Linked DNA regions of Homo sapiens: all the other regions are reported to be linked to region 3. Evidence: microRNA targets listed by miRTarBase, many of them from high-throughput screens and not tested one by one. Region 3 holds a microRNA gene; each other region holds the end of a gene's coding sequence.
The links. Region 3 holds the annotated microRNA hsa-miR-3923 (AACUAGUAAUGUUGGAUUAGGG, at 1,451-1,472, opposite strand). A microRNA usually pairs through its seed, bases 2 to 8, with sites in the 3' UTR of a target mRNA and lowers its output. Matches are read on the target gene's strand: a 7mer-m8 pairs with bases 2 to 8, a 7mer-A1 pairs with bases 2 to 7 and ends in A, and an 8mer does both.

Region 1: miRTarBase lists EREG as a target of hsa-miR-3923. Seed matches in the 3' UTR shown: 7mer-m8 at 2,040-2,046.
Region 2: the mRNA of CRNKL1 is a reported target of hsa-miR-3923. Seed matches in the 3' UTR shown: 7mer-m8 at 770-776.

What each region holds. Positions count from the first base shown.
Region 1 is chr4:74,384,142-74,387,504 of GRCh38, reverse strand. It overlaps EREG (epiregulin), which reads right to left. Exons shown (of 5, transcript NM_001432.3): 5 at 1-2,778. The coding sequence ends at 2,697. Among named protein-coding and RNA genes, the nearest start is that of EREG, 21 kb to the right of the region's middle.
Region 2 is chr20:20,033,360-20,036,359 of GRCh38, reverse strand. It overlaps CRNKL1 (crooked neck pre-mRNA splicing factor 1), which reads left to right. Exons shown (of 14, transcript NM_001278628.2): 14 at 1-1,992. The coding sequence ends at 165. NAA20 (N-alpha-acetyltransferase 20, NatB catalytic subunit) reads right to left here. Exons shown (of 6, transcript NM_016100.5): 6 at 2,705-3,000. Among named protein-coding and RNA genes, the nearest start is that of NAA20, 17 kb to the right of the region's middle.
Region 3 is chr3:79,506,046-79,509,408 of GRCh38, reverse strand. MIR3923 (microRNA 3923) reads right to left here and starts at 1,522; the gene lies at 1,440-1,522. The region is part of intron 2 of ROBO1 (roundabout guidance receptor 1); the gene reads left to right.

The DNA of each region.
Region 1 (3,363 bases), not on the chromosome of region 3:
GGGATTAGCTTTTTTAAGCATTCTTAAAGATGAAAAATACAAAAATGACTTGTTTTTATGAATTGACATGCTTAAGATAAACTGACAAACCAAGATTGAGATGCTTACAATAAATCTTTTGTAAATGAAATAAATGGATTGCAGCTGATTTATTGAAAAGTCAATAGATTTTTTTGAAACAGCCAAGATCACTGAAAATATTCAGACTCTCCTCACATCTAGTAAGCGTTAATAAATACAGTTGTACCTTGGTATCCACAGGGGACTGATTCCCAGATCGCCCCCCTGCACATACTAAAATCGGGCACAGATGTTCAAGTCACTTATATAAAAGGGCATAGTGCTTGCATATAACCTATTCACATCCTCCTGTATACTTAAATCATCTTTACATTACTTGTAATACCTAATGTAAATGCTACGTGCGGTGGCTCACACCTGTAATCCCAGCAGTTTGGGAGGCTGTGGAGGGTGGATCTCAAGGTTAGGAGATTGAGACCATCCTGGCCAACATGGTGAAACCCCGCCTCTACTAAAAATACAAAAATTAGCTGGGCATGGTGGCATGCGCCTGTAGTCCCAGCTGCTCAGGAGGCTGAGGCAGGAGGATCTCTTGAACCCGGGAGGTGAGGTTGCAGTGAGCCGAGATCGTGCCACTGCACTCCAACCTGGGCAACAGAGCGAGACTCCATCTCAAAAAGAAAAAAAAAAAAGTAAATAGTTGTTATAATGTATTTTTTGTTGTTGTTGTATTATTTTTTAAGCATTTTCCGTCCTTGGTTGGTTGAATCCACAGATGTGGAACTAACCACAGAGGGCCAACTGTAAGTAGAGTATTTAAAATGTGTTCTTACATATTTTGACTTCAGCTGTATTAAATAGGAAACAGAAATAACTGTTTAGATCTAATTGATTTTTCTTTTCTCTTGTTTTTAAGTTTTATATAAATGGTTAGCAGAGCACCAAATGACTGCAATTCTATGATCCATTAAGGTCATGTATACATACATGTTTGTATATGAATATATATACAATATGTATATGACCATATATATTTACTTGTTTTTGTCTGTTTATTTTCCTAATAGTAAGGGCCAGGGCCAGGACTTTAGATGACAGTCGTGTGATTGCACCAGGGTATATAATGCATGGATACACATGGAGACAAGTCCTGGCACCTGGTGCTCCAGAGGTCAGCCATGGCTTATTATGCCTTCGTTTACCCTAGCACATGCCAGGATAAACGTAGAGGAAGAACAGATCCTCCCTGACCTGGTATGTGATCCAGGGAGACTCTACTCAAAGGTTTAGCATTCGATGAAGGAGCCTCCCATAAAATCCAAAAGTGGTGGCAGCAGTGGCTCCTTATGCAATAGCCCAAAAATACTCCTATTAACTCTCTGAGACCTATGGGCTCAGAGTGCAGAAGAAATCTTTGTCTCTTCCAAAAAATAAACAAATGTCAGGAAAATGAGCCCTAGTTTTCATCTCAGCCTCCACAGGAAGGTGTGTTTAAGTTTCTACATTTTAAAAGCTTTCAATTGAGATTTTTCATTTGGAAAAATACACCATATTAATTTTTAAGTTTTTTCCCATTTCCTGTGTCAAGATACAACTTTAAATACATAACTTTACATTCTAGAAGAAGCCATTTACTGAGCTGTATTAAAGTTAAAACTTCCTTGAATAAAAGATGAAATAACTGTATTTCCATCTTAAGACAACATGTAGAATTATTGTCTTCATATATTTTAAAATAATAATTAGTCCATCAAATTTTGGGCTGTGATTTAATGTTAGAATTCAGCAAAGCCCCTATAAAAAGAAATAGTCTAAAAATATTCTTAAAAAGCACAAATTTAGGCTTCAAGTGTGGACTTTTTTCTAATTGTCTGTTGAGCAATAATTACCTCACATAAATGTTGTAATATACAAAAAAGGAACATTGTGAAGCTATGAAATGCCCACTACTTAAATAAAAGATTACAGAAAATTGTTTTTCAATTCATTTTACATAGGCAGAATCTGGTAGATGAGTGACTAGTACCTGTAGGAGTCGTGAGTTGGCATAGGGAACTGTCCACTGCCCCTCATATAACAGAATTATAGCTGAGACCTGAGTGAAGAGACCATAGACTCCCCAGGGTTAGCTTGTTTCAAATGTGTAGTGTTTAACACAGGACCTATATTTGCTTCTCCCAAATTCTAATTGCATTATTGTTTTAATATATGATACCATGGTGCCAACTACATATCAAACCATGGTACAGTCAAACCAATTATCACTGATTTGAGGAACATAAAAAACATACTTACTAAATCGATTTGACTATATATATAGGCTTACAGAAATCTGTCATTTGCTAACAATTCTTGAGCTATGACCTGGGAATTGCTTACTTCTAAGCACTGTGCACCAGGCATATAAACTTTGAAGCTTTCAATGAAGCATTTAGCTCAGGAAATTACTTGTATAAAAATATCAATTTTCTTTTGATATTAAATATTTTCTGCACATTATACATTAGCAAATAGTCTGTCAAAAATAAAACAAAAATAAAAACATTTTTCAAGTACATTAAAATACAGTGTTATTGACCTAACACTTGACCCAACATAAATATTATTAATAAAATGGGAATATTAATATTAACCAGGCACACTGTTATCCCTGCCCATAAGTTTGATGGCGCCATTCAGACTTGCGGCAACTCTGGATCCCCTGAGGTAACTCTCTCATATTCCTTCTTTGGTTCTTTACTTTTTCGATTTCTGTACCTGGAAATATTCACAAACGAAACTGTTAGCACTGCAGTTAATAGCAAAGGAACAAGTGTGTTATATATGGACTCCAAAGGCACATTAGCATAGTGTTTCCAAAATGACAAAGTTGAACAGATTTAGGTTGGACAATGTTAAAAAAAAAAAAAAAAAGAGGGATGAAGAGGTGATGTGCTGTAGTCAAACAATTTTGGAATGAAATGATAAAATACACTTAAAGAGTTTCTCAAAGTCTTTAACGTGATCATGAATATTGTGAAATTCCAAGAGGCGTGTGGCCACATTTAAGTCTGAATTTTAGGTTTTCTTTTTCTGTCTCTCTTTCTTTTTCCTTCCTCCCTTCTAAGGAATGAATATTTACAAATCATGCTACATTAATACACTCTTTCCATCACATTGATATAATGCTATCACTAATCAAAATAAAAATAATATTTATCAGGCACTAATTTGGTGACCTACAATTTTCTAAGTGCTATACATGCATTATTTATTTTACTCTCACATTTGCTGTTACCATCCTCATCTTACAGATGAAGAAAGTGAAATACAAATGGGTTGTATATAATGTGCCCAAGGTCC
Region 2 (3,000 bases), not on the chromosome of region 3:
GATGCAGGCTGGGAAGAATACTTTGATTACATCTTTCCAGAAGATGCTGCCAACCAACCTAACCTCAAACTCCTGGCCATGGCCAAACTGTGGAAGAAACAGCAGCAGGAAAAGGAGGATGCTGAGCACCATCCAGATGAGGACGTCGATGAGAGTGAATCCTGATCTTTTTTTCATAGACAAATGTTTTGTTATTTTTATAAATTAATTGTTTGGAACTCTTGTGACTCCTGGAAGTTCTTATATATTTCACCAGTAAGAAATTGATTGGTATCTTTGATGGCTACTTTTTAAGTTATTTTTTAAATGCTCTTGGGTTAGCTAGGGGTAGGGATTGCAAGTAAAGGACTTTTTTAACTGCTGGATTTGTTTTTCCAACTGAGTCCAAACTTTTCTAATGTCTGTCCACATCATGCATTAGGAAATGTAATTAAGGTAACATTCTACAGTTACTTTTCATGTCATACCCATAAAGATAGTTTATGCATTCATCTGAAATGTGTAACTTTTTCATGTCTTCAGAGTCACAGACTTGAGTTCATTTCCCAGCTCTGCCACTCATGATTATATAACTTAATTTTCATTTTCCTCATTCACAAAATGGGCCAATAGTTTGACAGCTCATTTTGAAGATTACATTATAAAAGGAATATACCTGGTGGGTGCATAGTAAGTGCTCAGTAAATTGTTTGTTCTAAGCCACTTTTAAAAATGGTTTCATTCCTTGTAGAATTGAATGCGAGTGGATTAATAATTTACCTTACTTTCTTACTAGTGTCCAGTTATATTGTTTTTTAGAACAACACTTGGAAAATAATTTGCAGTGATTATATTTCTGAACAAGGTTCAGAAAACATTGTTTACTAAGAATTTAGTCTAATAATTTCAGTTAGGCGCTCATCAGTTCTCCAGAGTGGTTGAGTTTGTAATACCTTGTTTAAAGAATAATGGCTTGTTCACGTGTGTGCTATGAAAAATGATGTCCCATGTTCACATAAATTTGGGAAATTCTGGACTAAGACTTAAGTCTCGTTAATCAAATCTCTTTATAGTTAGGCTTCTGTACATTATGTATCTCCAGTAGCAATGTTGCCATATTATTTATTTCCCAAACTTAGTGGACAATGGAGTCATTTCTACCTAGAGTACCAGTAAACATCTCCCAGTGTGCTATAGTAGAAAATGTCTACTCCTCACTGCTGACATGTTAAACTTACTCTTGGTTTAGAGCATGTGTAGAAACACCTAAGGTAGCTCTATGCTAAATAATGAAGAGTAGCACAAGAATGAATGTATTTGCTGATACGTTGCTCACATTCTCAAGCAAAAATTCAACTGCATTAACCGATCTGAGAGTTTTCCTTTAACCTGGACTGTGTTTCTCAAGCACATTTTTTCTTTGTTCACTGCCCAAGGACTAGAACTGTATTTTTAAGGTTGTTTTCCCCTAAAAGGACCTTTAGTAAGCAAATTTATTATTAAATGTGCACATCTTATTCACCCAAGGGAATAAAAGCTACTTCGTAATGTTGTTACTAAATTTTATCTTGAAAATAAATAACAGTGTTTGAGGACAGAAGAAACTAGGACTGTTGTTGAGATAAAATCTGTTTTCAGCCTGACTGCTTTAGTCACTGGACGAGCATCAGCTACTGCGGTGTCAGATCACTTCTCGAGTAGAGGTCTGCCTAGTGAGTGAGCAGGAGAACATCATCTTAATAGCCTTTGGCTCACCCAGAGTCAGGGAGAGATGAAAATAATAGGTCAGAATGCAAGTGACTTAATCACAGTCTTCCTAGAATTATCTGTTTATGTTGCATGAATGCATAAGAAAAAAATTCTGTCATGTTCCCAAGGTAGAATTGTAATAAGCATGTGCCAGTGTGAAAGCTGGAAGGAAAAAAGCTATTCTCTAACAGGAGAACATAAAGATTCATTTCTCTCCCACCCTCAACTCCACCAAAGTAAATCCTTTCGATAGTAAAAGTTTAATAATTTCTTGTGGGTTTTTCTTTCGTTAAGTCTTTCACTAACTAACTAACTGGATATTTTCACATATTACAGAGGAAGACACTACACATAAAATACATGGTTGGCCTATGATATAGTTATATGGCCTTTCTTTAGGAATTATGTTCTTTTCCCTCTCCAAAAAAAAAAAAAACCTCAAGTTTTTTTTTTTTTTTTTTGGCTTTTTAGAAGGGCAGGATTTAAGCAAAGCATTGTGAAGAGGAGAAAAGATCTAGGACTAACAAACAAACAGTATAATGGTATGAACGCAGGTGACTGGGAAGAATTTACTACACGATAAGAAGGGAGCTTCTTAAGTATGCTGGACAGTGATTGCTTCAAGTGTGCATTTTTAAAATACTACGTATGGAAGTCACAATTTAATTAAACGTATCTTAAATGATGATGACCTTTCACAATCCTGATTTTTTTTTTTTTTTTTTTTCTTGAGGCAGGGTCTTACTCTGTTGCCCGGGCTGGAGTGCAGTGGGACGATCTCAGCTCACTGCAACCTCCACCTCCAGGGTTCAAGCAATTCTTGTGCTTCAGCTTCTGCATAGCTGGGATGCCCAGCTAATTTTTGTATTTTTTTTAGTATAGATTTTGGCCAGGCTGGTCTCAAACTCCTGACCTCAAGCAATCAGCCTGCCTTGGCCTCCCAAAGTACTGGGATTACAATCTGATTTAGTTTTACAAATGACTAACAAACTTCAGAAAACATTCATAGAGTCAATAATGTATTATACATCTTAGATTTATACATTTCATATATGCTTTTAAAGCTTCAATTAACAGTTCAATACAAAATTTAAAAACAAATATATGCAGCAGTGGTTCTCAGGCACAGAACTGAGGAGGAGACTGGAGCAAGTCTTTTCCCTAGCATACATACAGTGAATACTATGAACCATGAGAGTGGTATGTTTCCTTCTGACCTAGCTGCCTTTTTGATTGAATTTTGTTACAATGAACAGCTTTAATAGGTATGAT
Region 3 (3,363 bases):
TTTTTTAGACAGGATACAGTCTTTAAGTTTGAGGTAAACATTTTAAAATGAGCATAAGCAGGAACATTAAAAAGAGAGGTGTTTAAACTACAGCAAATGTGATTTAATTCCGCCATAAATATTGCTAAGCACTGAAATTTGGCTGCCTTCCAGAAAAAAAAAATAATAAAGTAGAACCAGCTATAATCCCAGAATATGTTGTTTTTTTCACAGGAAAAAGACAAGTCTAGGTGATTCCTTTAGGTACATAATAGATCTGAATCCATGTTGGAAATTATATCCCTGCCCAAAAATAGTGTTTTATCTTTTTGCAATAAATTAACTATGTGCTCCTACATTATAAAAATTGTTTTTGCTAAGGACTTACTAATGTGTCATCAAATATGCTTATCCTATACCTTGAAAAAAAGCTAATCTTGTCTTCAACTATGAATTCTTTTCAACTGTGTTATTTCTATAAGACTTATACTTTGTTTTGTCAGATTGTATCTTAAATGAAATACATGATTCTAAGAAAAGTAAACTAAACAATTATATGCCAATAAAGCCCACATATTATAAATGTTTGTCTACAGAATAAGAGAATAATGTGTAATTAACTTGACCAGCCTCCAACAAAACCCATGCTAAATAGAAGAAGGTCACTTATTTTGATGAGCAGACTCTAATTGCTTCATTTATATTTTTGATTTTTTCTCAGAGATAATTAGAAAACGGATGCCAGATCCTGCATTCTGTTTTACAATACTAACACAAATTTTAATCAAACGTAATTTCTGAGAATTCCTTTTTGGGGGAATGAAAAGCCATAAGGTTTTTGGTGGAAATTGCTTTTATTTAAGCAATAAAAAAGTGTTAATGAAATTGCTTGCATTCTATTGAGCAATGGTAGTTCAAAGATCTTTGTTACTGAGTGTATTAGTTTGCTAGGTCTGCCATAACAAAGCACCACAGATTGAGGGTTTTAAGCCAAAGAAATTTGTTTTCTTACAATTTTCGAGGCTAGAAGTTTGAGATCAACGTTTAGGCAGGATTGGTTTCTTCTCTGGCCTCACTGTTTGGTTTGTAGATAGCTATCTTCTTCCATGGGTTTTCACATGGTCTTCCTTTTGTGTTTGCCTCTGTCCTAATCTCCTCTTCTTTTTGATTTTTATTATTATACTTTAAGTTCTAGGGTACATGTGCACAACGTGCAGGTTTGTTACATAGGTGTACATGTGCCACGTTGGTTTGCTGTACCCATCAACTCGTCATTTACATTAGGTATTTGTCCTAATGCTATTCCTCCCCAAGCTCCCCACCCCCCAACAGGCCCCAGTGTGTGATGTTCCCCTCCCTGTGTCCATGTGTTCTCATCGTTCAACTCCCACTTATGAATGAGAACATGCATTGTTTGGTTTCCTGTCCTTGTGATATTTTGCTGATATTTTGCTGAGAATAGTAGAGTGAGCCCTAATCCAACATTACTAGTTTCCTCTTCTTATAAAGAAGCTAGTAATATTGGATTAGAGCTCACTCTACCAGACTTATATTAGCCTAATTATCTCTTTCAACACCTGATACCCAAACACAGTAATATTCTGAGGTTCCGAATATTAGGACTTCAACATATGAATTTTGAAGGGACCATTCAGCCCACAAAATCATGGATACCTTCCTGAATGTTGCTAAATGTTATATTGTGAAGAAAAATTAAAGCCTGGTGAGTCCATGACACCGCCAGCATATACCACAGAAACACACCCATGTTGTTTCCAAGTAAAATGTGGATATACACAGACTTGCAAAATTAGAAAATTAAGAGATCAATTATTCTTTATGATGAACAATACAATAAAATGGCAAAGTGCATAGAAGGACCACCAAAAACCTCTTCTACACTTCTCATTCCCAAAACAAAGGAAAGCATGCTTGGAAAGATTACTGAAAGGCTCTGAAGAACCTCCACAAAAAATTTGCATCCTCTTGATATGGCCTTTTGTTGTAGTAAGTTGCAGTACTGCTCTTCAGCTATTTCAATAGAGAGGAAAGTCAGTGAACAAAAACCCCTGCCCCCATTTATTTCTAATGGTCCCGATAGTTTGTGTATACCGGGGACTCACATAGAGTTGTTCTCAGAGTGTGTAGACACCTTGGTAGGCATTTATTTGTGGTCTACATTTTTATCAAAGAACCCTCTTCGTAGCTGTCCTATTAGGTCACAAGGGATGTAGTTCTTGTTTTGTACATCATCATGCTCCTCACTCTCCTGCTTTTAATAAACCGGCTAATGTGCTCTAAGCATTATAATAGGAATCATGATCTATCATCAGGTTTGATCCCCTTATGTAAAACAGTGCCAGGGCTCAAGAGGAGCTCTATTATGTATGTTGATTGATTGGGCAACTGACACTTCCAGAATCTAGGTGATGTGGCTGCATAAAGCACTGGCAGTGTGTTGTAACCTGACACAAATTGCCTTCCAGTAACCTCCTATGAACTCTGTAATCTTTCCATTGGGGTTTGGATATTTGGTTAATGGATAACAAATTCACACTCTTTCCTACTTGCCAGTTTAAACCTTTCACATACCTAATATGTAAGTTGCACATATGCTTTTATGACACTTGAAACTCAACATACTTAACACCAAATTCATCCACTTGTTTTAAAAATTGCTTTGTCTCAGCCGGGCACAGTGACTCACGCCTGTAATCCCAGCACTTTGGGAGGCCAAGGCGGGTGGATCACGAGGTCAGGAGATCGAGACCATCCTGGCCAACATGGTGAAACCCTGTCTCTACTAAAAGTACAAAAATTAGCTGGGCGTGGTGGTGCATGCCTGTAGTCCCAGCTATGCAGGAGGCTGAGGCAGGAGAATTACTTGAACCCGGGAGGTGGAGGTTGCAGAGAGCCGAGATCCTTCCAGCCTGGCAACAGAGTGAGACTCCATCTCAAAAAAAAAAAATTGCTTCATCTCATTGTTTTTCTATTTCTTTTCTTTGAAACTTACTGTTGGCATCTGATGAGTAACTTTTTCTGTTCCTACTTCAATAAACAGATAAATTCTAATTATTTGTCATTTCATTATCTCTTACTTCTATTCACCCCGTTGCTGGTTAGGCATCTTACGATTTGACATTCATATCCTTAAAAATCTTCTAATTGATATTGCTGCCTCCACTTACTATCTATTTCAGTTATTCCTCACTGCTACGAAAGGCTTTTTTTGTAAAGCATATTTCTCATCATAAAATCTCAAAACACTTGCCATATTAAAAATAATTAATATAATAATAATAAATAAATAAACCTGTGATCTCTCTTTCAATTTAATAAAATGCAGATTCTTTATTCATTCAGATAAGATGTTGTCTAGGTGTA